Linked DNA regions of Homo sapiens. The protein of the gene in region 3 purifies or fractionates together with the protein of the main gene of each other region. This does not show direct contact. Each region holds a gene or a part of one and is shown on either strand. Other genes may lie near its edges.

What was found.
Region 1: the proteins of DNAJC15 (region 3) and PJA2 purify together in Homo sapiens (affinity purification with mass spectrometry, with the first as the bait; one large-scale study listed by BioGRID). This does not show direct contact.
Region 2: the proteins of DNAJC15 (region 3) and TIMM17A purify together in Homo sapiens (affinity purification with western blotting; one study listed by BioGRID and IntAct). This does not show direct contact.
Region 4: the proteins of DNAJC15 (region 3) and LRRC47 purify together in Homo sapiens (affinity purification with mass spectrometry, with the first as the bait; one large-scale study listed by BioGRID). This does not show direct contact.
Region 5: the proteins of DNAJC15 (region 3) and CAND2 purify together in Homo sapiens (affinity purification with mass spectrometry, with the first as the bait; one large-scale study listed by BioGRID). This does not show direct contact.
Region 6: the proteins of DNAJC15 (region 3) and FAM204A purify together in Homo sapiens (affinity purification with mass spectrometry, with the first as the bait; one large-scale study listed by BioGRID). This does not show direct contact.
Region 7: the proteins of DNAJC15 (region 3) and ANP32B purify together in Homo sapiens (affinity purification with mass spectrometry, with the first as the bait; one large-scale study listed by BioGRID). This does not show direct contact.

Annotation. Positions count from the first base shown.
Region 1 is NC_000005.10:109,371,975-109,375,474, reverse strand, and holds part of PJA2 (E3 ubiquitin-protein ligase Praja-2), read left to right. Parts: intron 1-3,500.
Region 2 is NC_000001.11:201,958,503-201,962,002, forward strand, and holds part of TIMM17A (mitochondrial import inner membrane translocase subunit Tim17-A), read left to right. Parts: intron 1-3,500. UniProt on the Homo sapiens protein: Essential component of the TIM23 complex, a complex that mediates the translocation of transit peptide-containing proteins across the mitochondrial inner membrane.
Region 3 is NC_000013.11:43,110,586-43,114,713, reverse strand, and holds the end of DNAJC15 (dnaJ homolog subfamily C member 15), read right to left. Parts: 3' UTR 501-4,128; downstream 1-500. UniProt on the Homo sapiens protein: Negative regulator of the mitochondrial respiratory chain. Prevents mitochondrial hyperpolarization state and restricts mitochondrial generation of ATP. Acts as an import component of the TIM23 translocase complex. Stimulates the ATPase activity of HSPA9.
Region 4 is NC_000001.11:3,793,699-3,797,843, forward strand, and holds the start of LRRC47 (leucine-rich repeat-containing protein 47), read right to left. Parts: upstream 2,801-4,145; 5' UTR 2,779-2,800; coding exon 2,164-2,778; intron 1-2,163.
Region 5 is NC_000003.12:12,806,680-12,810,179, forward strand, and holds part of CAND2 (cullin-associated NEDD8-dissociated protein 2), read left to right. Parts: intron 1-626; coding exon 627-781; intron 782-1,530; coding exon 1,531-1,654; intron 1,655-3,379; coding exon 3,380-3,500.
Region 6 is NC_000010.11:118,339,525-118,343,780, forward strand, and holds the start of FAM204A (protein FAM204A), read right to left. Parts: upstream 2,801-4,256; 5' UTR 2,746-2,800; intron 2,404-2,745; 5' UTR 2,203-2,403; intron 1-2,202.
Region 7 is NC_000009.12:97,993,341-97,996,840, reverse strand, and holds part of ANP32B (acidic leucine-rich nuclear phosphoprotein 32 family member B), read right to left. Parts: intron 2,211-3,500; coding exon 2,061-2,210; intron 1-2,060. UniProt on the Homo sapiens protein: Multifunctional protein that is involved in the regulation of many processes including cell proliferation, apoptosis, cell cycle progression or transcription.

The DNA.
Region 1 (3,500 bases), on a different chromosome or scaffold from region 3:
GTGCAGTGGCGTGATCTCGGCTCGCTGCAACCTCTGCCTCCTAGGTTCAAGTGATTCTTCTGCCTCAGCCTTCTGAATAACTGGGACCACAGGCATGCCATCATGCCCAGCTAATTTTTGTATTTTTAGTAGAGATGGGGTTTCACCATGTTGGTCATGCTGGTCTTGAACCTGTGACCTCAAGTGATCCACCCGCCTCAGCCTCCCAGAGTGTCAAGATTACAGGCGTGAGCCACTGCACCCGGCCAGCATTTTTAGATATAGGAATTTTGGCTACTTTTTAAAAATATGAATTATATATTCTTTTTAAGTAGAAAAGTATTTTAATGAATTCATGATTGCCTTCTTCCCTGAAAAATTCTAAATGATCATTTAATCACATCTGAAATGTTACACTCTGTGGGATAAACATTGCAGCCAGTAGCATTGCTCTGAGCTGTTTGACAGGTACTGAGCACCACCTTATTAAATTAGGATTCCAAGGGGAATTTTAATAGGCAGCATATAATTACCAGACTTAGAATTAGACCAAAGAGCTAAGGTTAATACCCTGCTCTTTTGAAATATACCCTGAGAAGTTTAGTAACTGTTTGAGGACAAGATCTTGAGTTTAAAAAAAACCTTTCAGCAATACTAGCATATCTTAACCTTGGGCCTAACTGCTCTGAAGAGAGGCATGCCATCTACTGTCTGTTCCTTACTTATAGCATTTGAGGTTTCTTGCAGAATTTTTGTGGCCTTAGGACTTAACTTTGCTTAAAATTTAAAAACCTTACTTAAGGTAAAATGTTGGGACAACTTACTTTGTTGATGATGTTGGGAAATAAAATGATTGTTAGCCATTTAGTTGACTTCAATATGATATATTAAAGGATTTGTTGAAATCTTAAGTGCCAGACTTTGTTCCAGGTGCCCTGTTAATACAAATCATAATGGTCCCTGTTCCCACAAGGTTCACTAGCTTTATGAAGAAGACAAAATATACGTATTTATTATTGTGAGGCTGAATTAAGCGCCTTTCCTGTTCCGTGTAGGTTACCTGAGAGCCACAAAGAAAGAGTTTGTCTGAGAACTTGGTACTACCCCCAACAAATAAAACATCTATATGCAGCCAAGGCACAGATCTTAAAGCATATGTGCTGACATTTTAGCAAACCTTTTTATCTTGTTTTCAAGTTCATAGAAGTTTGGAAGGAGCACATTAGGTATAAATGTGTTTGTTCTGCAGATATGCTAGGGAGTTCATGGGATTACAATAACCTGATACTAAGGAAAAAGACCAGAAAGTGACAAAAAGCAGGCACAATGCAAAAATCATAGCCATCTTAATGAAATTAAGCAGACTTATATATTTGGACATAATCCATTCATATCACTGTATTACATTACAGTTCAGTGTTAATAGTGGTAAAAAGTTCCAGAATGTTTAGATTATGTCAGATAACAAAATATTTAAAATTTCACTTTTTCCTAGGCTCCTGTAGTTGAGTTTCTTGTGGCTGTGATAAATGCCAGGAAGAACAAAGTAACAAGTACCTTGGGGAATTATGGAATGAGAGATTACTTTTGGTTGGTTTTATGTTTCCATAGCTTATTTCTGCCTAGGATTTGTACATAAATTTTGTCTATAATTTCATTCTGTATATCAAGTTTTTTTAGTTCACAATTGAATGTGTAGAGTGTAACATTTGAGTAAATTATAGTTGTCTGCTTTTTAAATACAACTCTTAGGTGCTAAAAGGGATCAGTACCAGTGAAGGATCATATGAAGATCAAAGTAGTACTTAATTTAGTTTTTACTTTGAGAACTTTTAAATGTGTCATTCACCCGCTTTTAAAATCTAGAACAAATGGATCTTCACTGTTCCATGATCATTTTTGTGTCCTATTTGTTCTGTTGCTTACTCCTTAAAAAGTGATTTTTAAATCTTTTCCCTTTTTTCCTTCCATGTACTCCTGTCACTCCTAATGGTTAGCTTCGTTTCTTATTTTCCTGTAGAAGTTAAAAATATGTAAATGTGAATTTTCTTATTTTCCTCTTCTCCATATTAGGGGATAGTAGTATTTATTTGTATTTTTAATTTCCTCTTCAATGAAGAGAGGTAGCCCCTCTCATTCTGTGCCTCTAGTTATTTCTGACACTTCATCTAATTGTCCTTACTCACAGGTTGCTTCCCTCTGTCTCTCAACCTTGAGTTTTTCTCAATCTTGAAGAAAACCTTTACTTTTTCTTGCTCTGTTATTTGCCTGTTTGTGTTTTCTTTTCTACTGCTGAATTTTAAGAAAAAGTTTTCCATACCCACTGTCTCTATTCTGTCACTATCCACTCTTCTTACTGCCTTGAAATCTAATTCCTAATATTATTTCTGTATTCTTTTTTATTGAGACAGTCTCGCTTTGTCACCTAGGCTGGAGTGCAGCGGTGCAATCTCAGCTCACTGCAACCTCCACCTCCTGGGTTCAAGCAATTCTCCTGCCTCAGCCTCCTGAGTAGCTGGGACTACAGGTGTGCACCACCATGCCTGGCTAATTTTTTTTTCTTTCTTTCTTTTTTTTTTTTTTTTTTTTTGAGACGGAGTGTTGCTCTAGTTGCCAAGGCTGGAGTGCAATGGTACCATCTTGGCTCACCACAACCTCCACCTCCCAGGTTCAAGCGATTCTCCTGCCTCAGCCTCCTGAGTAGCTGGGATTACAGGCATGCGCCACCACACCCAGCTAATTTTGTATTTTTAGTAGAGACCAGTTTTCTCCATGTTGCTTAGGCTGGTCTCGAGCTCCCGACCTCAGGTGATTCACCTGCCTCAACCTCCCAAAGTGCTGGGATTACAGGCATGAGCCACTGCACCCGGCCCTATATTCTTTAATGTCAGTGGTGACCTCCTGATTTCCACATCCATTTGTCTTTTCTCAGTACCCATTTTCTTTGATTTCTCTGCACTATTATGAAAAATAATTGCAATGTTAAAGAAGCAGCTGTGTTGTAGTGAGCTGCACTGAGTAAACAAGAAGTCTAGTTCATGAAATAATTGAAAAACAAAAGAAGCGATTTTATACAGGAAGGTCTTGAAAGAAATAGAGTCTGATCTGTGTTTGGAAGTGGGGAAAAGGTGAAGTGATTATAAAGATATTCCTGATGGCAAGAATGCCCACTTTGAGGACACTGTTTGAAATAGAGCATTCTTGAGTTGGATGCAAGAAAGTACTGGGATCAGATAGCAGTAAATTATAAGTGTTATTCAAAGACATTTAACTTTTTATTCTATAGGTCACTATTTCCAAAGTGGGTAAAATATATTAAGTGGTACACAATGTTTTTAATTTAATCATTATGTATTTATGTTAATGGAAATTAAGAAAATATAGGTAGCACATCAAATTCAGGACTTAATGGCTATTGCTTATCCTAACTAAATGTATTTGAGTTTAAAAAAATGTTAAAAAAAGACTCGCTAACAGTTATTGATGGCTCATTATTTATCAGGCATTGTGAAAATGTTTTA
Region 2 (3,500 bases), on a different chromosome or scaffold from region 3:
GACCAGCCTGGGCAGCATGGCTGCCCATTTCCCCAGAAAAATGGAAAAATTAGCCAGGTGTTGGGGCATGTGCCTGTGGTCCCAGCTACTAGGGAGGCTGACATGGACGGATCACTTGAACCCATGAGGTTGAGGCTGCAGTGAGATTGCACCACTGCACTCCAGCCTGGGTGACAGAGACCCTGTCTCAAACAGCAACAAAAACAAACAACACAAGGGTATAGTTAGATTGGAGAGACCGTATATAAGACATGAAAAAATCTTAATACTTCAGTCGTTCCTTAGATGTTTTGGGTATCAAAATAATCTTCTCTTTGCTTTTCTTAACTCTCACAGTAATGAAGAAGTTAGTACTATTATTATCTCCCATTTTCCAGATGAGGAAATTTAGTTCCTGAGGGTTGAGGTAATGTTGTATCTTTTTCCTTTGTTCCCTGTGTAAGAATTATCTACCCTGGAAAGTAATTAGTAACTAATTTCTCTTTGTTTTTGTGTTGGTGGTTATTGTGTTATTCAAGAATGATGAGTGGTATTAAAAAGTTCACACCAAACCCAGAACCTCTAGTATATGCAGAAGCCATATAGGTTTTTGCTTGTTTTTTGAGAGGCTGCTTCTATCACCTTACGCATTTTCAGTGAGTTAAAATACCATCAGATAACTGTCACTGCCAAAAGAAGCCTGTGAAGACATAGCAACTAAATTATTAGCTGGGCCCGGTGGTGCATGCCTGTAGTCCCAGCTACTCAGGAGGCTGACGCAGGAGAATCGCTTGAACCCAGGAGGTGGAGTTTGCAGTGAGCCGAGATTGCACCACTGTACTCCAGGCGGGGTGACAGAGCAAGACTCTGTCTCTAAAAAATAAAATAAAAGGGCTGGGCACAGTGGCTCACGCCTGTAATCCCAACACTTTGGGAGGCTAAGGCGGGTGGATCACGAGGTCAGGAGTTTGAGACCAGCCTGGCCAACGTGGTGAAACCCCATGTCTACTAAAAATACAAAAATTAGCTGGGCATGGTGGCACGTGCCTGTAATCCCAGCTACTCAGGAGGCTGAGGCAGGAGAATCGCTTGAACCCAGGAGGTGGAGGTTGCAGTGAGCCAAGATTGTGCCATTGGACTCCAGCTTGGGTGATAGAGTGAGACGCTGTCTCAAAAAATAAATAAATAAATAAAATTAAAAACTAAATGTAGGCCGGGCGCGGTGGCTCACGACTGTAATCCCAGCACTTTCGGAGGCCGAGGCAGGTGGATCACAAGGTGAGGAGAGCGAGACTACCCTGGCTAACACGGTGAAACCCCATCTCTACTAAAAATACTAAAAATACAAAAAAAAACAACAACAAAAAAAATTAGCCGGGCATGGTGACGGGCGCCTGTAGTCCCGGCTCCTTGGGAGGCTGAGGCACAAGAATGGCTGAACCCGGGAGGCGGAACTTGGCAGTGAGCCCAGATCACACCACTGTACTCCAGCCAGGGTGACAGCGAGACTCTGTCTCAAAATAAATAAATAAATAAATAAAAATAAATGTAATGTGGTACTGTGGAACAGAAAAAGGACATTAGCAAACTAAGGAAATCTGAATTAAGTATGGACTTCAGTTAATAGTAATGTGTCGGCCGGGCACAGTGGCTCACACCTGTAATCCCAGCACTTCGGGAGGCTGAGGCAGTAGATTACCTAAGGTCGAGAGTTCGAAACCATCCTGGCCAACATGGTGAAACCCCCGTCTCTACTAAAAATACACCAATTAGCCGGGTGTGGTGGCAGGCACCTGTAATCCTAGCTACTCGGGAGACTGAGGGAGAAGAATCGCTTGAGCCCGGGAGGCAGAGTTTGTAGTGAGCCGAGATTGTGCCATTGCACTCTAGCCTGGGCAACAGAGCAAGACTCTGTCTCAAAAAAAAAAAATAGTAATGTGTCAATATTGGGTCATTAGTTGTGACAGATGCTCCATGCTAATGTAGATGTTGGTAATAGGGAAAAACTGGAAGAGTTTATTTTTTCTTACAAAGCACGGTGAAATAGAGGAAGAGTGAGTGGTGATATGAGTGAATTGGAATTATCCATTTCAAATCCTAGAGGTTAGCCTTTTTTAGGAAGCTATTGAGAAGTTTTTATGGTATTTTAAATTCTAAAAATACTAGGATGATGATTTTATTAATTTGGTGAGCATTTGCTAAGGTATTCAGATCAAGGTGCAGGGAGGGACAGGCAGTATGGGAAAATCATAGTTGTGTTCTGAAAGGTGTTATATTTTCTTTCTTTTTTTTTTTGAGATAGGGTCACCCAGGCTGGAGTGTGGTGGCACAGTCTTGGCTCACTGCAACCTCCGCCTCCCAGGTTCAAGTGATGCTCCCACCTCAGCCTCCTGAGTAGCTGGGATTATAGGCATGCGCCACCACAGCCGGGATAATTTTTGTATTTTTAGTAAAGACGAGGTTTCACCATATTGGTCAGGCAGGTCTTGAACTCCCTACCTCAGGTGATCCGCCTACCTCAGCCTCCCAAAGTGCTGAGATTACAGGCATGAGCCACCACGCCCGGACTTAGGTCTTATATTTTCTTTTTTTTTTTTTTTTGAAACGGAATTTCGCTCTTGTTGCCCAGGCTAGAGTGCAATGGCGCGGTCTCGGCTCACGTCAACTTCCATCTGTCCGGTTCAAGCGATTGTCCATCCTCAGCCTCCCAAGTAGCTGGGATTACAGGCGCATGCCGCCACTTCTGGCTAAGTTTTTTGTATTTTAGTGGAGATGGGGTTTCACCATGTTGCCCAGGCTGGTCTCGAACTCTTGAGCTCAGGCAGTCCACCCGTCTTGGCCTCCCAAAGTGCTAGGATCACAGGCGTGAGCCATCCGGCCCAGCCCAGGTCTTATATTTTCATAGAGAAAATAAGATAGGATTTTGACATGTCCCTGTTACTCTTTGACCACTTTCTTGCATTTTGGAAGAAGACGTTTCAGGCTCATCTTGTACTTTTCATGCCCTAGCTGTGGGCAGGGCAGCTTTTCCTGTTGTAGCCATTTCTCCAAAGAGCCCCAGTTCCTTTTAGTTGAGAATGGTATTTAGGGCCAGAAGTGGTAGCTCACACCTGTAATCCCAGCACTTTGGGAGGCCAAGGCAGGAGAATGGCTTGAGCCCAGGAGTTCAACACCCTTGACAACTTAGAGAGAATGCCTCTCTACAAAAAAATTTTTTAAAAGAAAAATCAAGAATGGTATACAATCTATATTTCTGTATATCTATACATACTGAAAATCACAAGTTTATATTGATATCTCGTATTTCCAGTTCATCCCACAGGATTCATTATTTTCTTCCTTTTCATATGTATACCTGCCTTCTTAACCTGCTTGGGCTATGGTACCCCACAACAGGCTGCCCTTTGTCAGAGTATACTCTGACACTCCATGCCAGGCTGCCTTCCTTGAGAATCTCTCTCTTGCTTAGGCTCTAAAACCTTGTTCTCGGGTGTCCAGGTGTATAGACGTTCGCCTCATCT
Region 3 (4,128 bases):
GATGTGTCAGCATTTCTATTACCATTGCCTATGTTTAGAGTTCTTTATGCAGTCAAAAGTGCTAAGGCCAAAAATTGATATGAAGATAACAGAGGCAAGATATAAGTAAATAAACCAAGGAACTAGGCACTTTTCTTTGGTATTTGCATTACAACATAAATATAAAAATCAATTTAAAAGTATTGTTGGGCTGATTTCTATTTTTTCCCTTCTTTATTTTGGTATGAGAGGTAAAAATCCAAGTTTCAATAATGGCTTCTGAGAAAATTCACATGTCTATGATTTGGGTTTCTAACAGTTGCTTTTAAAAGTGAACCAATCGATACTGTGTCCTGAGGGACAACTGGGCTGAGCATCTCATGAGGAAGTAAAGGGAAGTGTAGAAAAAGTGAAAGACTAAGATAGACTTTCAATAAATAAAAGAGTTCACAATGTAGATGAAGTTGTACAACACATGAGGTGTTCTTCAAGAATTATACAACAGAAAAATTGAGTGTAAATTCAATTTTAGCAGATTAGGTTTTATTTTAACTGCATCGGGAAAACCACATAGATAAAACTATCTTATTGTTTATCCTTTACAATTTTAAAGCAAAACAAACACAACAGCATTTTATTTATTTAATTGTAGTGCATCCGTATTTTCACATATTGGATTTTAAAAAATCTCTGCTTACAAGAAGAAACGAAAGCCCAAACAAGAATGTAGTATGTAAGCGAGTACAAAATGAGATAGAGTAGAAGGCAAACTGATTACCTAAGTCCCAAGAAGTCAGGAAACAAAGTGTAACTCAGATCCAAGCAGGGTTAACCAGGAAAGGCTGCATTTCTGTGTGTACCTGCTGCTTTCTTCAGCACTGCACTGTACAACATTCTGGGGCAGCCTGAGAGATGCAGACTATACAAATATAGTCTCACATCTCACCACCAAAGCACAAACATTCCAGAGGCATGGAAGCCAAAGTGTAAACACTTCTGCAGTCAACTCTTAACTATTCACATTTACAGAAGGAAAGAGCAAAGGCACCACTAATCCAAGAATAGATAAATGGAAAGATCACTGAGTTAGCTTTGGAATACACTCTTGCATATAGGTGTATCCATGTTCAAGGAACTCACAAGTCTGTTATGAATATTAGTCATAAGGAGTTAGAAACTTTCTCCAGGAGTCAGAAACCTTTTCACCATTTATTACAGCTACTGGAAATAGAGAATTAACTGGACAATCTCAAAGACACATTCTTAGACTGGTAACTAAAGTTCCATTGACTCCACCAGACAACTATAGAACTATACACAATTTTGGAATTTGGCAAAAAAAGTATGGCATGGACAAATAACCCTGTTCAAAATTGAAAATAAACAGCAGGAAACAATTTTTAAGAATTCTATAAAAGTACTGAAATTCCCTTTCAATTGCTGCAAGTTACCTCATTTCAGTTGTCTTGTTTTCATTGCCTCTCTGCTCCTTTCAATATATTCGGTTTTCTTGTTTTCATCTTTAATACACTGAGCTCTCTCTTCATTTCTTGTGCCAGGTCTGCTGCTTCACCTTCATGAGCTGTCTTCAGAACCTTGCTCTGGATGTTCTCCTTGAAAGCTCTTGTCCATGAACATTTCAGATAAAATCTTATCAAAGCTTCCTCCGTCATCACTCTGAGTCAAAGAAAGTCACTCTGCTAAACTTTACAACAGAACTTTTGCTATGTGCACTTGGATGGACATCGTAAGCTTCCAGGGAAGAATTAAAGAGATTAGGTACTCCTTGCCCATGATGCACAATGACACTGGATCCTTTCGTAAACCTAATTTCACATTTATAATCCCAGGTCACATGCATCAAAAAATGAGCCAAAAGTCATACAAGCCCCTTCATTCTGATTCCCACATATTTAGAATGAGTGCAATATAATATAAACAGCATGCGATTCAGAGTCTGAATTTGGTTCCTAGTGCCACCACTTACTGGCTATGTAATCTTGGAAAAGATCCTAAACTCCTCTGAGCCTGTTTCTTAACCTGTAAAATGGGGATACATAATAGTACCTCTTAGGCTGGCTATGAAAATCAAGGTAACATAGGTAGAATGTTTGGCACAGGTACTAAACGTTAGCTAATATTATTAATGCTTTTCTTAAAATGAACTTATTCTAATTATTGGCTTTTAGCATTATAGTTTAGATGTCCATATTGAACCAATATCTCTATGTGATTTTTATCCTGTCATAATTGAAGTTTGCCACTGTTGATCCCCCCTGCTAAGTTGAGATACTAATTTGAAATTTATGGCCAACATCTAGCCTGAGTGATCATATTCCACCCGTGTGAAATTAAGCTCCCTCTTAATGCTGAAGATTGAGTATTTCTCTACATCTATGTAATATAGTCTGTTCAGACTTAAAATTTGGAGCAGTGCTGCTAGATACTGTTGAATCGAACAGAGAGGGAAAGGGTTATTATGGCAGGAAGAGAAATGAAGATTACTTAATGAACTTGCATTTCAATTGAGCAGGGTTTTTAATACAAAAGAAAGAGCTTTTTATAAATTCTTTTGCTCAGCAACAATAAAAAGAGGAAAAGAGCACTCAGCTGGGAACAATAGCTACTCAGCTCATAAAAAATCATTAGAAGGAACATTTTCTTTGTCCACCATGCCCAGCAATTTTGCTGGTGGGCAATTATCCAGATCACTTAGGTTCCACCTATAAAAATGAGTCCAGAGAACCTTCTCAACTTTTCCAGCTAATAAATTATGCTAACAGAAGTCCTCATCTCTTAATGTGTGTAATGCCACCATAAATAAAATTTTGACTCATAATTCATGGAATGTTTTTGACAAGTAGATGATACTGATCCAGCCATTAATAGGATTTGCTCTTTGGGTTGCTTTTCCATTAGAAGGGACGGACTATGCTGACACATTTACTCATTCCCATCAAATCCTCCTTGCAGCCAGGAGCCTCCATCTAGTTGATGACTGTTGGGCGAGGTGCAGGGTGCCCGAGGACAGCATGGTTCCACTGTGTGAAATTGGCTGGTGTACTTGGATATTTAACTTTTCACTGCAGTCTCCGTAGCTCATCTTAAGTTGGTTGACTCAAGAGAAACTTCATATTCTTGACGTAAAGAGCCTGGCTGATTCATCTTCTCCCACAAATGGTATTAAACCATATTAAGCTAATTGTCAAGTGTGTTCAATTACCTTATCAATAAAAGCTCTTTTCTGTGTTCAAGGTTCCCCAGGACAACCAAAAGATTTCTGCACATGAATAAAATATATTATTTCTAATGATGCTGCTGGGTGATCAATCATAAGCACGCCCATTAATGCAACTCTTATATGTCTTGTTAATTAAAAAGTATGAAGGAAAAAGTTTCCTGTTTAAGAATGTATTTTTTTCAGTTTGAACATGTTGCACATTTTAAGAATGAATTTATATCTTTACTGCCTGATATAGTAAGTATTCAATATTTGCTGAATGTCTAAAATATATTTCATAAAAAGTAAAGTGCTTTGAAGACTAAACAATGTATTCCAAGCCCAACATTTTTTCCTTACTAAACTTCCCTCCACTTTTGACTTTACGCTGAAGACTGGCACCATCAACTAAAATCTAAATAGCTTTCTATGTTCCCCTTGAATTAACTGTCCTTGACTTACACTTTCTCTGCAATCGGAATTGTTTTATTTTTAAAAGGCCTTCCTAGGCCCTCAGATTGCATCTAAGATGTAAGTATGCACAGAAACTGCAATATCAACAGAGCTTAATTAAGCAGAATATGCAATGACAGCAAATATGCAAGCGCAATCTTTACTGAAGACAGGTAACCACTCAAATAAGCTTTTTACAGATAAGGAGTTGGGGGGAGGGTGTGGCTGGTGAAAATTCAGTTTTATAAGCCTACTGCCATTTAGATAATTACTCCTGAATATCTGCAACTGTACTTGTTCACTGCAACAATAAACAAGACTGATATGATCCTTGCTCTCAGAGAGCTCATAATTCATGATATTACTTTTGCTGGATGCACCAGAAAAAGAGGGATACATTTTAACCTTCTACTATGTAGGTATAGTTGTGGAGATCTGGGGATTAGGATGGCATCTTTAGGTACAAGGGTAACAGC
Region 4 (4,145 bases), on a different chromosome or scaffold from region 3:
GTCTGATCAATGGCTCTACCTGAAACCAAAAAGAGCTCCCCGCAGCCCCAGCCAGAAGTGACTCAGTAAGCAGGACCGTTTCCCACACCCCTATGATTGCACCTCAACCAATCAGCAGCAAGCACCCGTTGCCTAGCCACCCTCCCCTTTCCCCAAACTATCCTTGAAAAACCCCGCCTCCAAATTTTTGGGGAAGCTGATTTAGTAATAAAACTCGGCCGGGCGCGGTGGCTCATGCCTGTAATCTCAGCACCTTGGAGGCCAAGACAGGCAGATCATGAGGTCAGGAGATCGAGACCATCCTGGCTAACACAGTGAAACTCCATCTCTACTAAAAATACGAAAAATTAGCTGGGTGTTGTGGCGGGCGCTTGTAGTCCCAGCTACTCGGGAGGCTGAGGCAGGAGAATGGCGTGAACCCGGGAGGCGGAGCTTGCAGTGAGCCAAGGTTGCACCACTGCACACCAGCCTGGGAGACAGAGCGAGACTCCATCTCAAACAACAATAATAATAACAGTAAAACTCCAGTCTCCACTTTAGCTGGCTCTACATGTGTAAAACTTTCTCTATTGCAACCCTCCTGCCCTGATAAATCAGCTCTATCCGGGTAGTGGATAAAATGAACCCATTGGGCAGTTACATCAGTAACCATGTGTCACTCTACAGTGGGTTTGTTTTTTTTGCCACAGGGTCTCGCTCTGTTCAGGCTGGTATCACAGCTCACTGCAACCTCCACTTCCTGGGCTCAAGTGATCCTCCCACCTCAGCCTCCCGAGTAGCTGGGACTACAGGCACGCGCCACCAGGCCCAGCTAATTTTTGTATTTTTGTAGAGATGGGGTTTCACCATGTTGGCCAGGCTGGTGGTGTGACCTCAAGCGATCTGCCCGCCTCAGCTTCCCAAAGTGCTGGGATTACAGGTGTGAGCCACCGCGCCCGGCCAGGGTTTGTCTATATATCCTTATATAGATATGTTACTTGTAAAATGAGTTGCAATGTCTTGAGGAATTGCTACAGCAAATAAATAGATAAGCTGCTAAAGTGTATACGTATTTTATTAAGAAATGTCCACATAGGCCAGGCGCGGTGGCTCACACCTGTAATCCTAGCACTTTGGAAGGCCGAGACAGGCGGATCACATGAGGTCAGGAGTTCGAGACCAGCCTGACCAACACAGTGAAACCCGTCTCTACTAAAAACACAAAAGTTAGCCGGGCGTGGTGGTGTGCGCCTGTAAGCCCAGCTACTCAGGAGGCTGAGGCAGAAGAACCGCTTGAACCCGGGAGGCGGAGGTTGAAGTGAGCCGAGATCGCGCCACTGCACTCCAGCCTGGGTGACAGGACCAGACTACATCTCAAAAAAAAAAAAAAAAAAAAGAAATGTCTGCATAAATTCAAAGACGAAAAATGGGGGAAGAAATGCAGGACTGCCTTAAGGATGAAACCAAAAGAGAAGATGGAGAGAACATCTGGCTGGGTTTAGGTCGTGGTTCTGCCATGTGGCTTCCCTACTTTCTTTTAGGCAACAGATTCAATGGGCACCTGTTATAGGCCAAGCATTATCGCGGGGCCTGGGGATCCAAGATTAATTAGTAAACAGACGCTGGACAATATAGTCTGGAGAAAAACCCAAGTTACCTGCTGCTTACTTTGGGCAGGCCCTTTGGCTTTCTGTAAAACAGGAATAACCACCCCTACCTTGGAAAGCTGCTATTAGGATGAAGTGAAATATAATCTTCAAGATCACAGCATGTGGCATTATGCAAAATCCAGGGTGCCCCCTTCACCACCAGACTCACTCTCAAGTCACTTCACAAGTACTAGATACAAAAAAGACAGGTCTCTACGCTCGATCTACAGGAGAAGCCAGGTTTGCTAACAATTACAAAATAGCGTACCACGTGTAAAAGTCCAGTTAACAGAATGCGGGGGAGTTCAGAGGCCACCTAGTATGTTGGTGTGGCCAGGAGAAGGGGGAGTTGGAAGGCGGCATCTGCTTCCCAGGGGTGATGCCCCCCGCAGCTGGCTCCTTTCAGCCTTGTAGGAATTCCCTGGGCCCAGTGCCCCAGGGGGCGTCACTAGGAACTGCTCGGCCCCGAGAGGGGTTCCTTCTCCAGGGCTACTCCAAGGCCCCATCCCGCCCCGCCCGGGCAGCCCCCGCTGACCTTGAGCGAGGCCAGGTGGGCGATGTCGGGGCTGAGTTCTCGGAGGCAGTTGTCAGCAGCCGCCAGTTCACTGAGCAGGGGCAGCGCGCCGGGGCGAAAGAGCTCGGCGGGAAAGGAGTCTAGGCAATTGCCGGTGAGGTTGAGGCTCTGCAGGCGCGGGGCGCAGCGCGCCAGGTCGGCTGGCAGCTCGCGCAGCCGGTTGCCGCTGAGGTTGAGGCTCTGCAGCTGCGGAAGGCCCGGCGGCTCGGCGGGGCCCAGGCCTTGGCCCGGCGGCAGCGCCTCCAGCGCGTTGCCCGACAGGTCGAGCACCCGAAGGGCAGGCAGCGGCCCGAGCTCGGGGCTCAGGCCGGGCCCCAGCGCGTTGCGCCGCAGCACGAGGCTGTGCAGCTGCGGCAGGCCCTGCGCCAGGCCAGGCCCCGGCGCGCGCAAGCTCCCGCAGCCGCTCACTTCCAAGTAGTGCAGCAGCGGCAGGGTGAAAAGCCGCGGCGGCAGCTGCCCACCCGCCGCCCGCACTCGCTCCTCCAGCCCGGGCCCCGTCAGCAGCAGCTCCCGCCGCCGCTCGCGCTCAGCCAGCTCCAGCTCCGGCCAAGACTCTGACACCGCTGCCGCCGCCATGGCGCCTCAGCTGCTGGCAGGCACCCACCCACCAGGGTGCTTCCGGGGCAGCGCGCGCCACTTCCGACCTGTGCCGGAAAAGCCCATAGAGAAGCCACCTGGCTGCTAGAGTGCCGCCGCGCGTGCCATAGAGGAGAGTGGCCTCTCCTGCGTAGAGCCGGGGAGGGGCTGGAGAGCGGCTCGCTCTCTCCGCGGGTAGGGGTGAGGGTGGGGGTTATGAACCCAAAAATATCTGAGACAGGACTCAATGAAATGTAAAAAGTTTATTTTGCCAAGGTTAAGGACACGCCAGTGTCACAACCCTAGGAGATCGTGACGATGGTGCCCAGGGAAGTTGGGATGCAGCTTGGTTTTGTACATTTTGGGGAGACGTGAGACATCAATCAACACGTGCGAGTGTACCTTGGTTCAGCCCAGAAAGGCTGGACAATTCCAGGAGAGGGCTTTCAGGTCACAGGTAGAGAAGAGACCGGAGGGTGCATTCTTTTGAGTCTTTGTTCAGCCTTTCGCTGACTGCACAATTTATTATGCATGTGAGACGCGGGTAGAGGAATAGTCGCTTATGCTTTAGTCTGGCTTACTGAATCTTCATTTCTACGTAAACAGTAGAGCAAAGGAAGCGATCAGATATGCATTTGTCTAGGTGAGCAGAGGGATGGCTTTGAGTTCAGTCCTTTGTCTCGCACCTGTGAAGGGAAGCTATCAATTTGCATTGCCAGGGTGAAATTCAACAGAACTGTTTTAGGGTAAAGATCTTGAGGCCCACAGAGAATTTCTTTGTGGGCAAATTGTGAGGGAGGTGTGTAGCTTTAAAAATATGTATTTGTAACTATCTTATTTAGGAATAAGACGGGAGGCCGATTTGCCCGAAGCAGTTCCCAGCTTGACTTTTTCCTTTGACTTAGTGATTGTGGGGTTTTGAGATTTATTTTCCTTTCACAGGGTGGGGTGCGGGCGGATGGAGGAGCCAGAGTCTGTGCTCTACTGTGCCCCGACCGGCTTGTTTTGGAATTCCTGCACTTTTGAGTGGTGTAAACCAAAACCAAAATTCTTTTTTTTTTCTTGAGACGGAGTCTCGCTCTGTCACCCAGGCTGGAGTGCAGTGATGCTATCTTGGTTCACTGCAACCTCCGCCTCCTGGGTTCAAGCAATTCTCCTGCCTCAGCCTCCCGCTGGAACTACAGGTGCATGCCACCGTGGCCGGTTAATTTTTATATTAACCGTGTTAATATAATTTTTATATTAACCGGTTTTCGCCATGTTGGCCAGGCTGGTCTCGAACACCTGACCTCAGGTGATCTGCTCGCCTCAGCCCCCCAAAGTGCTGGGCTCACAGGCACAAGCCACCGCACCCAGCCCCCAAATTC
Region 5 (3,500 bases), on a different chromosome or scaffold from region 3:
CTAGTGCCGCTGTTTTTACACTTTCCTGTGCATTGGAATCACCTGGGGACCTTGTGGCGCTACAGATCCTGGCTCAGTAGATCTAGGGTAGGGTAAGGCCTGAGATTCCACATCCTGAACAAGCTCCCGAGTGGCATTGCCAATGCTAACTCACCACCAAACTTTGAGAAGCAAGCCTCTAAGGCAGAGGTTCTCCAAGTGTGCTCCCTGGACCACCTACAGTATCAGCCTCAACTGGGAGCTTGCTAGAAATGCACACTATCAGGCCACACCTAGATATAGCCCTCCTGACTCTGAAACTCTGGAGGTGGGGCCCAGCCATCTGTTTAAACAAGCCCGCCAGGGGATTCAGATGCACCCTCAAGTTTGAGAACCCTTGTTCTGGAGCACTATTTGGCCATTTCCTGAGACGTAAAACACAAGAAGAAATGTAGGTTTGGGAGGTCCCAGGAACGATGTTGGCATAGCCAGAGAGTATCTCTTTCTGGCCAAACAGGGGCTCCCCTGATGATCTGAGGCCTTTTCCTCAGCACGTGTGGCCGCAGGAGCATGAGGGGACATAAAGGGGCAGCCTGACTCAGGCTGAACCTTGTGCCCTTGGATTCACCTTCCCACTCCCTGCTCAGCCTGGGTCCTCTGGTGGTCAAAGTGAAGGAGTACCAGGTGGAGACCATTGTGGACACCCTGTGCACCAACATGCGGTCAGACAAGGAGCAGCTGCGAGACATTGCCGGCATTGGCCTCAAGACCGTCCTCTCGGAGCTCCCTCCTGCAGCCACAGGTACCCAGGTCCCCAGGACTAGGTACTGTTAGTATTTGTCCTAGTTTATGGTAAAAAAACAAACGAAAAAACAAAAAAAAAACACTGAGGCTCAGAGAGTTGAAGAGACATACCTGAGGTCACTCAGCTAGTAAGCAGGGCAGAGAATTCAGGCCCAGCTCAGTTTAAGTTCATGGTTCTGTGTCAGGAATGCTTTTAGCTCAAGTGATGAAATCTAACTAACGGCAGTTTAAAGAAATCAGGGGTGGTTTTTCCTCACATGGCAATCCTGGAGGAATCAGCCACTCCATTTTTGTAGCAGTTCATTTAGTGGCTCAATGTTGACAGGGTTCCAGTCTTGCCCCATGTCCCCTCCCTTTATAGGGAAAGCACACGTTTTCCCAGAAACCCCCAGAGGACTTCCACTTATATCTCACTGGCAAGAGCTGGATCACCCAGCCACTCCCAGCAGCAAGGGAGGCAGGAAAGGAAGTGTTTAACTTTCCCTGCCTCCCTAGTGGAATGGGGAAAGGAAGAAGGGCTTGGGTGTGTGTAAGTCACCCAGAAGCTCGGCCATCAGCTCTGCAGCTCCCCTAGCTGTCTCCTTGACTTTGGCCAGACTCTGGGTCAAACCTGGGACCTCTGGAGCCCTGGTAAGATTCCCGGGGATGTGGGCTCAGGAACACAGCCAGAGCAGAGGCAGACTAGTGGTGGAGGCTGCCTTTCCCCCAGGCCAGGGCCTCACTGTGCCCACCTTGTGCCCTGTGCAGGCTCCGGGCTGGCCACCAACGTGTGCCGGAAGATCACAGGCCAGCTCACCAGTGCCATTGCCCAGCAGGAGGATGTGGCTGTGCAGCTGGAAGCCCTGGACATCCTCTCTGACATGCTGAGCAGGTGTGGGAGGCCATCCTGGGTATTGAGGAAGAGTGGGTAAAAGGGGACAGGGAGGGACTCAAATCACAGAGCTAGCACCTACTGCACACCAGGCCCTGTGCTTGGGGCTCCTTAATCATCCCAGCAGCCTCGTAAAGGAGAACTCAATTGTCACAATTTTACAGGCTCTGAGAGATGATGCGGTCAGTAAAACCTCCCATGACTTGAACACCTGCTCTGGCCAGAAAAATGTCAGGTGCTGGCCTAGTGTTGGGAACATGGGGTTAGATCAGTCTTGGTTGTTCTAGGGAGGAGTTCACAGACATGTATAAAACTGTGAATGGAGTAAGCACAACAGTAAGGATAAGAGCAGGGCTGATAGGAGCTCAGAGGAGCCCCCAGTCCAGCTGGGAGTGAGGAGCCTTCTAAAAGAGAGTGCTGCTAGAGCTGAGCCTTCGAGGAGGGGCAGGACTTAGCTGAGTTTGGGCAGGTATAAAGAGGATGCTGGAGGGGAGACTGTCCCCAGTCCAGAAGGCAGAGACAGGGGAAGACTTGGGGTCCCAGAGTCTGCCAGGGGTCGTGGGGCAGGCTGTAATGTGGAGAGGTGGGTATGCAGAGCTGAGGTGCAGGGCTGGCCAGGAGCCATGGGGCAGGGGTGAGTATTTGTGTGTTCTACCCTGATCTTTCTCTCTGCAGTGGAGAGTAGGTGGGAGGGGATTGAACAGGCAGGGGACTGGTTAAGAGGCTGCTATAGGGAAAGCAATTCGGGTTGTATTCAGGAGGGGGACTCCACAGGACTTGGAGTGGGCAGGGGAGGCAGGGACTGGAGGCTGACCCCTAGGGTTCTGCCTTTAGTAACTGGCGGGGGCAGACAGAGGTGCTGTGATGGGGTGCACTCCGGGAGCCAGCAGCAGGTGTGTGGGGAGGAAGGTGATGGATTCAAGCTGGGGCATGTTGAACTTGAGGCTCCTGGGAGGCACTCACTCAACCACACACTCCATGAGGGCAGCTCCCAGGATCAGTCTGTCTTGTTCACCCTGGCTTCCAGCACAGTCCCTGTCACTTAGCAGGTGAACAGGCAAACAAATGAAACCTAGGAGAGGGGGTTGGGTAGGACATAGAAATAAGGGAGGGTAAGGTCAGCGTGTTTCTGTAAAGTGAGAAAGAAAAGGTCTCAAGATGTTTACAGGACAGAAAATGCACGGGCCTCGTTTGAAGGTGTGGATAGAAGCTGCTGAGGCAGGCAGGAGCTGTGCTGTGTGCGCAGAAACCATTGTCTGGTGTTGCCTCTTGTCTTGAGCCCAGAGCTCAGCATCTCCAAAGGCACTAGGGAGCCATGGAAGGAGTTAAGCAGAGGAGTGACCAGGTGAGAAGTAGACTTTATACTGCTCTGGTCTCAGCGAGGAGGATGGACAGAAGGGGATGGTATTGAGGCAAGGCCTAGACTTCCAAGAAATAGGGACAGCCTTACTAGATCCTCTATGCTTTCCCCTATCAGGTCTTTCTCCCTAGGCTGGGAGCCAGGCTTTGCACTGCTGAGAAGTCCCTTTCTCTCTCCGCTTTCTCTCATGTAACAAAAGTAATTAAAATAATTCCTCCTCACAGTTGCAGGGCACCTCTTTTGCAAGGGCCATTGAGTTGCCATAATCCTGGGAAGGAGGCCGGGAGAGAATGGGGAGAGGGGCGGAGCCTGGCCCAGGTTGCCCGCGGAGTGCGATCGGCCTGATGCCCCCTCGTGCTCCCCAGGCTGGGTGTCCCGCTGGGCGCCTTCCACGCCAGCCTCCTGCACTGTCTGCTGCCACAGCTGAGCAGCCCGCGCCTGGCGGTGCGCAAGCGGGCGGTCGGAGCGCTTGGCCACCTGGCGGCC
Region 6 (4,256 bases), on a different chromosome or scaffold from region 3:
GCCTGTCTCCAGAAACGTGGAATATCAGAGAAACAGAAACTTAAATTTGTTTAGCATAGATTATAGCCAAGTCCATATAACAGCCAATGTATTAATTCATAAGCTTTCATTTTTTTTACCCTGCAACCCAAATAATTTTCAATTTAATCATTTTAGCCCCAAGGAAAATGTAAATGACTCAGAATCCTTTTTCTCTCTATGGTTTTGAATATCACTTTCTTCATTTTACACACCCTCCACCTCTAGAGTTAAGATTTATTCCATCCCACAATTATCCTCAAGACATTCTGTGTGTACTATGCAGAACACATCTTTAGTCCTGGGCTAACACAATTTGCCATGAACTGAAAATATTTATATACTGTCCTAGTCTGAATAACTAGGGTTTCTTGTTTGTTTGTTTGTTTGCCCTTGAAAACCACCCATCGTTATTATTTAGCATACTTGGTCAGATAACAATGAATCAAAAACAGGGTACAGTTCAGTGGTTCCTAATCTAAGTATGAATATAGTAACAGGAGTCTCTAAGCTAATTTCAAAAAGCCCAAACTATTTTATTTTTCCCCTCAGTAAGACTGTACCATTCATCATTACAGGAAAAGACCAATTTAGTGAAGCACTATTTTTCACATGTTAATCAGAGGTTCACTGGTAGTTATAGGTCTGATTTTTATCAGAAAAAAACATTCATAAATAAGGTTGAGTAGACACAATCTTTCAAAATAAAGCAGCCAGGGAGAAATCAAATTATAATAAAAACCGTTCTAGATTGTGCACTGGTTACAGGGGGAAAAAGTCTTCAAAGTTGGAAAATGGTTTCTAGTCCTGAGCAACATAATTAGGAGAAAGCCACTGCATTTGTCTGGGCCTCCATTCTTAAGCTATAAAATAAAGGTTTGATCAAATGATCTCTGAGATGTCTTACAGCTCTAAAATGCCTCTTTATGATTTTGATATTATAAGTGCCCTAAATGCCCAGAGTCACCTCACTCCTGGATGTATCACTCCATTCTCTCTAGCACTGCAATCCTGATTAGAGCCCAGTATCCAGTAGATAAGGTTTCTCTCCTCTACCTAGCAACTCAGCCAAGAGGATGTTTTCAGAGAAACTCTGTACACTTCAGGACACTGAGAAGGGGAAGGAACCCTAGTTACAACAGGAAACACTAGAACCAGAAAGGGGAAACAAAGCAAGTCACTGCTGCACATGGCATACAAACAGTGTGGCAGGCCTTGGTTTTCCACTAATCTTCACAACAACCCTTCCACTAGGAATTACTATCTATATCAGCCCCTCCCCTACCCGCCCCGCCCCCAATTTACAGATGGGATAACTGACTTGCCTAATGCATTCTGATCCATTTGTTTTACAAAAATAGCCCCATGGCTTTAGATTATGAATTTTACAGAGCAGAGTTGTAAGCGGGGACAAGGATTTGCGACTGGGGCTGAGAATGATCTTAGCCTATAATTACAGACTTGTTAAATTTGGTTAAGAATTTTTTTCTGTACTTTTTGAGTACAGAAAGCTATGCAAGATGCTATACTAAGTTGCATACATCAAAGTCAAAGTCACAGTCAGAGGTTTGAGTAATAATGTCATATTTTCTGGACAACCAGACAGCTGCTTATAATCAAAACCCAAAAGATATATTTGAGCAGCTCGATGGGTAAATGTTTTCCATCTCTATTCCAGAATTTAAATTCCATTTTCATCGTATAAGGCTGTCTTATTTCCTATATTTTGTATTTGATTAGAAATAATTCCAGAAGCCTGAACTTCGTCTGATCTAAAATTAATTTCACTTGTATACTAATTATAAGCCACAATTATTTAACAATCTGAAGATTGTAATTTACATCATAATCAGAGTCTGTGACTTAAAAATAGTTACTATTTTCAAGCATGTTAACATCAACATTAACGTAAATATCCTATTTACTTTTATGAAATGAATGTGTTCCTTTTCTCAAAAAAGGTACAGAAAGGACAACTGAATTACAGGCCTGAGAGCGAATCCAGAAAAACTACTTATTTAGCAAGATTTTGCATGTATTCAACTGTTTTAATTAAAGAGAGTGTTCGTTTACTTGAGGCCTGGAAAACATTTTCCCAGACCCAAGATCCTGCATGGAAAGACAATAAACCAAGTTAACAGTTCAAGGCTCATTTTAAGTCGATTCCGCTGTGAGAATACTTACAGGGTCCAAGATTGCAAGAGGATGGGTCTAGAAAGGTACACCGTTCCTGCTTGGCTGCACAACCCGGAATTCTGCAGGCTTTCTGGCGGCAATGCCACACTCCAATCCCAAAAGAGAGAGAAGCCCCTCCCGGGCACAGAACTAAGCGCTGCACATTCCGGCGAAGGATGTCTAGCCTGCTGGCAGTCCCATTAACTGGAGCTGTTTTCCGGAATACAGCAACTGTAAACGTGAGCCTGTTTTCCCTATCGACAGCCTCCTCAATCCCCTCTCACTTTGACCTGGGTGGGACGGAGAACCCCCTCCACATAACAGGCTGGGGAGGCCGCTGCGACGCCCCTTTCGAGGAAGGCTGAGGGCGGCCCCGCCGTCGCTTCCGCGGCCCCGGGCCGGGGGCTTTTCTAGCCTGCTCCGGGAGGCTCGGCCGAGGAGCTATGAGGCCGCCCATGCCGCCTCCCTCGGCTGCCCACAAGAGGCCCTCCCAGACTCATCATGCCGGAGCCCGAACCGGCGGGTAACCAACCCTCCATAAGCCGTACTCACCTGTCAGGAAGTGGTCGCCCAGCAGCCATCTTAGGACCCCGTCAACATCGCGCCTTCTCATTGGCTCCTGCGTCTCAACCAATGGGCTGGGGCCGTTCTGGCCCTAGGGTCGCCTTAGCAACCGGCCTCCTGGGGCTTCCCTTTTTAGTCCGCCCGAAGGAGGTGGTTCCTTTCTTTCTTTTTTTTCTCTCTTTTATCTTGCCGTTTTCTCTTTCTTCTGAACATTTTTAAAGACTTTGTTCTTTCTTCATTCCCTGCTGTAGGCCAATGCGTCTGGGCAAGGAAAGGGCTGACATAGACCTTGAACTGAGAGTTGATGCCACCAGGAGGGAGAATCTTGCAGAGTGCTTTCTTTCTAGGCCCCTCTGCAAACGTCTTCATTCATTCATCCTTTCCCCTCACTCTCTTCCTTTTTTTTAATTTTTTTTCTTTCTTCACCTATTTATTGGGCGCCTACTTTGTACCAGGCATCGTGCTAATCTCTGGTTAGCAGAAAACATGCTGACTCTTGCTCTCTTGGCGCCTACCGTCTGGTGATGGGGTCCAAGGTGCTTCACTGACTGGACCAAAAGTTTACCGAACTTCTTTTTTTCTTATTTGTGGCAGGCACTGTGTTATGCCCAGAAGGGGGTGCTTGGGGAACATAGAAAATAAGGGGAAAAAAAAGAGAGAGAAAAGCACTGCGAAGAGGATAAAATACCCTATGGATAGGGATGGGAATAGGGCTATTTTAGAAATATTTGCATTTTCCGAAATACTGTTTTATAATAAGAATAACATTAAGTGTACCTATTTGCTAATTTTGTGATGATTATATAAGAAAAGCCTGGGCAACAGAACCAGACCCTATTTCAAAAAAAGAAAAGAAAAGAAAATACAGTAGGCTTCCCTCATCTGTGGCTTCTCTTAGCCTGATTTCAGTTACCTGGGGTCAACCAAGGTCCAAACACATTAAGTAAAAAATTCCAGAAATAAGCAATTCAAATGTTTCATTGCAAGCCCATTCTGGATATCCTGATGAAATCTGCAGTGTGAATCATCGCTTTGTCCATGCATGCTGTTAGGCTACCAGGTTCTTAGTCACTTAGTAGCCATCTTGGTTATCAGATTGAAAAACTATATGTGGGGTTCGCCATTATTCCAGGATTCAGGCATCTACCGGGGAGTCTTGGAAGGTATTCCCTGCGGATAAGGGAGGCTACTGTACACATAAAGACTTTAACATGTTACCTAGCCCACGCTAATTTTCAATCTCAGCTGTTTTTTGCTGTTAACATTACCAATAATGTCTTTCTTCAAAGCAAGCTAAATGTGTATAAAATTTTGCATTGCACTCAGTAATATATCTCAATTTCACATCAACAGATGGTTAAGCCTATTAACTATCCACTAAACCACCTCACCTCCAACATCTTCCAGAAGATGCGCCAAGTTTAGAGAGCAGTTTTCTATAACCCCAGAATCATAGTAAAACCTGAATCAGCAAGTTTGGATCGCCGAGGTCCCTCTTC
Region 7 (3,500 bases), on a different chromosome or scaffold from region 3:
ATCACCTGAGGTCAGGAGTTCGAAACCAGCCTGACCAATATGGTGAAACCCCCATCTCTACAAAAAAAAAAATACAAAAAGTAGCCAGGCGTGGTGGTGCATGTCTGTAATCCCAGCTACTCAGGAGGCTGTGGCAGGAGAATCGCTTGAACCTGGGAGGCGGAGGTTGCAGTGAGCCGAGATGGCACCACTGCACTCCAACCTGGGCAACAAGAGTTAAACTCCATCTCAAAAACAAAACAAAACAAAACCAATTTGTGTTCTGGAATAGGAAGAAAATAAAGTTCTTATCAATCATGAGTACACTCAACCTGCCTTTAAGTATGATTCCCTCTCATTAGCCCTATAAGGGAAGTGATTAATGTTTTAAATGTTAAAAGTTTTTAATTTGTGTACTTAACGTGCCCTCCCACCCAAAACCAACAAAAACAAAAACCCTGTCCTTCTCAGAACTCAAACAAGCTCTATTCAGAATTCTGAAAGGTTTATTAAAGTCCCTATAAAAACGGTCACTGATAGGCTGAATTTCTGAATAAGTCTGAGAGTACAGAGACCAACAGTAATTTGGGAAAATAAATCAGAATGCTAGGAAAACAACACAAAACACACACTAAGGATCTGCTAGCATCAAGTTTATGTAAATAGATGCTAAAAAGCTATACTATGTTTAACTGGGCTAATCAGAGCTTCCAATGTCACTGATAACCCATGCAAATATAAAAGAATTATACTTGAACCTCTAGTATACTTAGAAGGGGAAATTTCTTTCTCATCAGAAACGGTCACCTGAAACTCACGAAGACTGCTTGAGCATTTAATATTACCTAAACAAGGCAAATAAAGAAAGCAAAACAAAAAATACTTCCAGTTTTTAATTCATGTATTATACTTTTTTTTTTTTTTTTTTTTTAAATCGAGACAGAGTCTTGCTCTGTCGCCCAGGCTGGAATGCAGCGGTGTGATTTTGGCTCACTACAACCTCAGCCACCGCCTGGGTTCAAGCAATTCTTGTGCCTCAGCCTCCGGACTAGCTGGGACTACAGGTGCGTGCCACCGTGCCCAGCTGATTTTTTTGTATTTTTAGTAGAGATGGGGTTTTGCCATGTTGGCCAGGCTGGTCTCGAACTCCTGACCTCACGTGATCCTCCCACCTTGGCCTCCCAAAGTGTTGGGATTACAGACGTGAGCCACCATGACTGGCCTCATGTATTATACTTAACCCACTCCACCTGCTGTAAAACCACAAACAAACAAACAAACCCCAATACCAAAAAACTAACTGTCCCACTCAGAACTCAAGCAAGCTCTAGGCACAACCTACCTTTGCCCAAGTTTGATTAGTTTCCTTCTACGTGTGCCTTAGTTTAAATAAAGGTACAACTTAACTTTCCTAGTAAAGCGAATATTGAAATGGCAGAGAATTCTGCAAGACTTATATAACCACATATCTTTTCCTATATAATGGGAAGGGTATGGGGTTAGGAGATACGGGTTCTAGTTTTGGCTCTAGTACTAACCACTTCTGTGGGTGGCTTTAGGCAAATTACTACACTTTCCTGGGACTATTGCTGTGCCTATAAAATAAGGGGTTGGGTTAGAGGAGCAAAGTTTCTTCCAGTTCTGACATTCTGGGACTCTGTGACAGTTAAATGTGCAGTGACAAGAGAAAACATTTTTATGTTGCATTTGGTCCCTTTTTCCGAAAGGATAGAGAATTGTTTTTATAACAATTAACAAATAAATTACTCAACACAGTAATTATTCTTCCTAACTACTACTTATTGAGCACCCAACATGCATTATTTCCAAACTTCACAGCAATTCTGCAAGGTCAAGTAATACCACCAGTTTACAGGTGAGGAAATTGGGCCTTAGAGAGATTAAGTAACCTGCAGAAGTTTGCCCATCAAGGAAATGCTAGGGCTAGAATTCAATCCCATATCTGCCCAGTTCCAAAGGCCATGTGCTTTCTGCTACACTAAGTGCTTCCTTACAGGTAAAATCATACATTTTCCCTTCCCAGGATCGTTCTCTTTTACTGTTAAAGAAAAAGCACTTACCTTTTTCAATTTAGGCAGCTTGGGGAGATTTGAAACTGAGATCAAGCCTACATTTATTAAACTGAGGAACTCTAAGTTCACAAATTCAGCTGTTAAGCCCTCAATTTTTCCATCATTTGATTTGCAATTGTCCAAGACAAGTTCTCGAACCTGTGGATGACAAAGAAAAAAGGATAAGCTCTCAAAAACACATTGAAAACAAACAACAATGCAGAAACTTCTACCATAAATATCCTGCAAAAACACCCATATATACAGGCAGCCTCTTACTTAGACCTAGATCATAGTTATAAAAAGATAAAAACTGATTAAGCCTTCAGTAACAATATACTGACAGGTTCAAAGATGGAATATTATTCCATGGGTATAAACACTTACGCTCTTTGTTTTTCCAGAAACAGAAACTATACTTTTTAAGATATAAGTGAAGTAAGCGTATTCCCCTTATTTCTTTTCTCCAGCCTGTTCCCCAAAGGGCAGCTTTTATCTAAATGCAAATGCAGAATGAAGACACTCTTTAGGCTGGGTCTACCTTAAGGCCCAGAAGATGACCCCTGGAAAAGAGGAAAGCTTTATGTTTCCTATCAAGACCACTAAGAGATTCTGGCTAGAGGTTTCTGCACCAACGCACTTTCCAACTCTGGTTTTAGTAATCTTTGCCAAGATTATCTTGACACTGGGAAAAAAAATCAGGATGCAAGAGTCCTTAATTCAAAACAAAGATCAATCTGGATTGCACTTGAGAAAGATGTTTCTAGCAGAGAACTGCTACATAATAAATTAAATTGCATTTTCAGGCTACACAGTCTCTTTTTCAGAATTTAAGTCCATCCAAGAGTATCACATCTGGCCGGGCGCAGTGGCTGACGCCTGTAATCCCAGCACTTTGGGAGGCTGAAGTGGGCAGATCACCTGAGGTCTGGGGTTCAAGACCAGTCTGGCCAACAAGGTGAAACCCCCTCTACAAAAATACAAAAATTAGCCAGGCAAGATGGCGAGTGCCTGTAATCCCAGCTACTTGGGAGGCTAAGGCTGGAGAGTCGCTTGAACCTGGGAGGTGGAGGTGGCAGTTAGCCGAGATTTCGCCATTGCACTCCAGCCTGGGCAACAGAGTGAGACTCCATCTCAAAAACAGTATCACATCTGATGATTTGAACTTTTGAATATTGATTATTTAATAGTCTACATGCAGATCCACCACAATAATCCATATTGCCATTCTTGCTCTATGATCATCCTGAAACTTGCAACTTTTTAGCTCACTTTGATCTACTCACAGTGATGCAAATTACCATTTTAACTGCACCAACAAAGGCATTCTTTTAGTGAACCTACCATATTTAATAGCATTAATCAAGCATGTATACAGTAGGGAGATGCTGACAGTCTGAAAAGAGAAGAGGAGCTATTAACAGTGTCCTCATCCTCTCATACAAAATC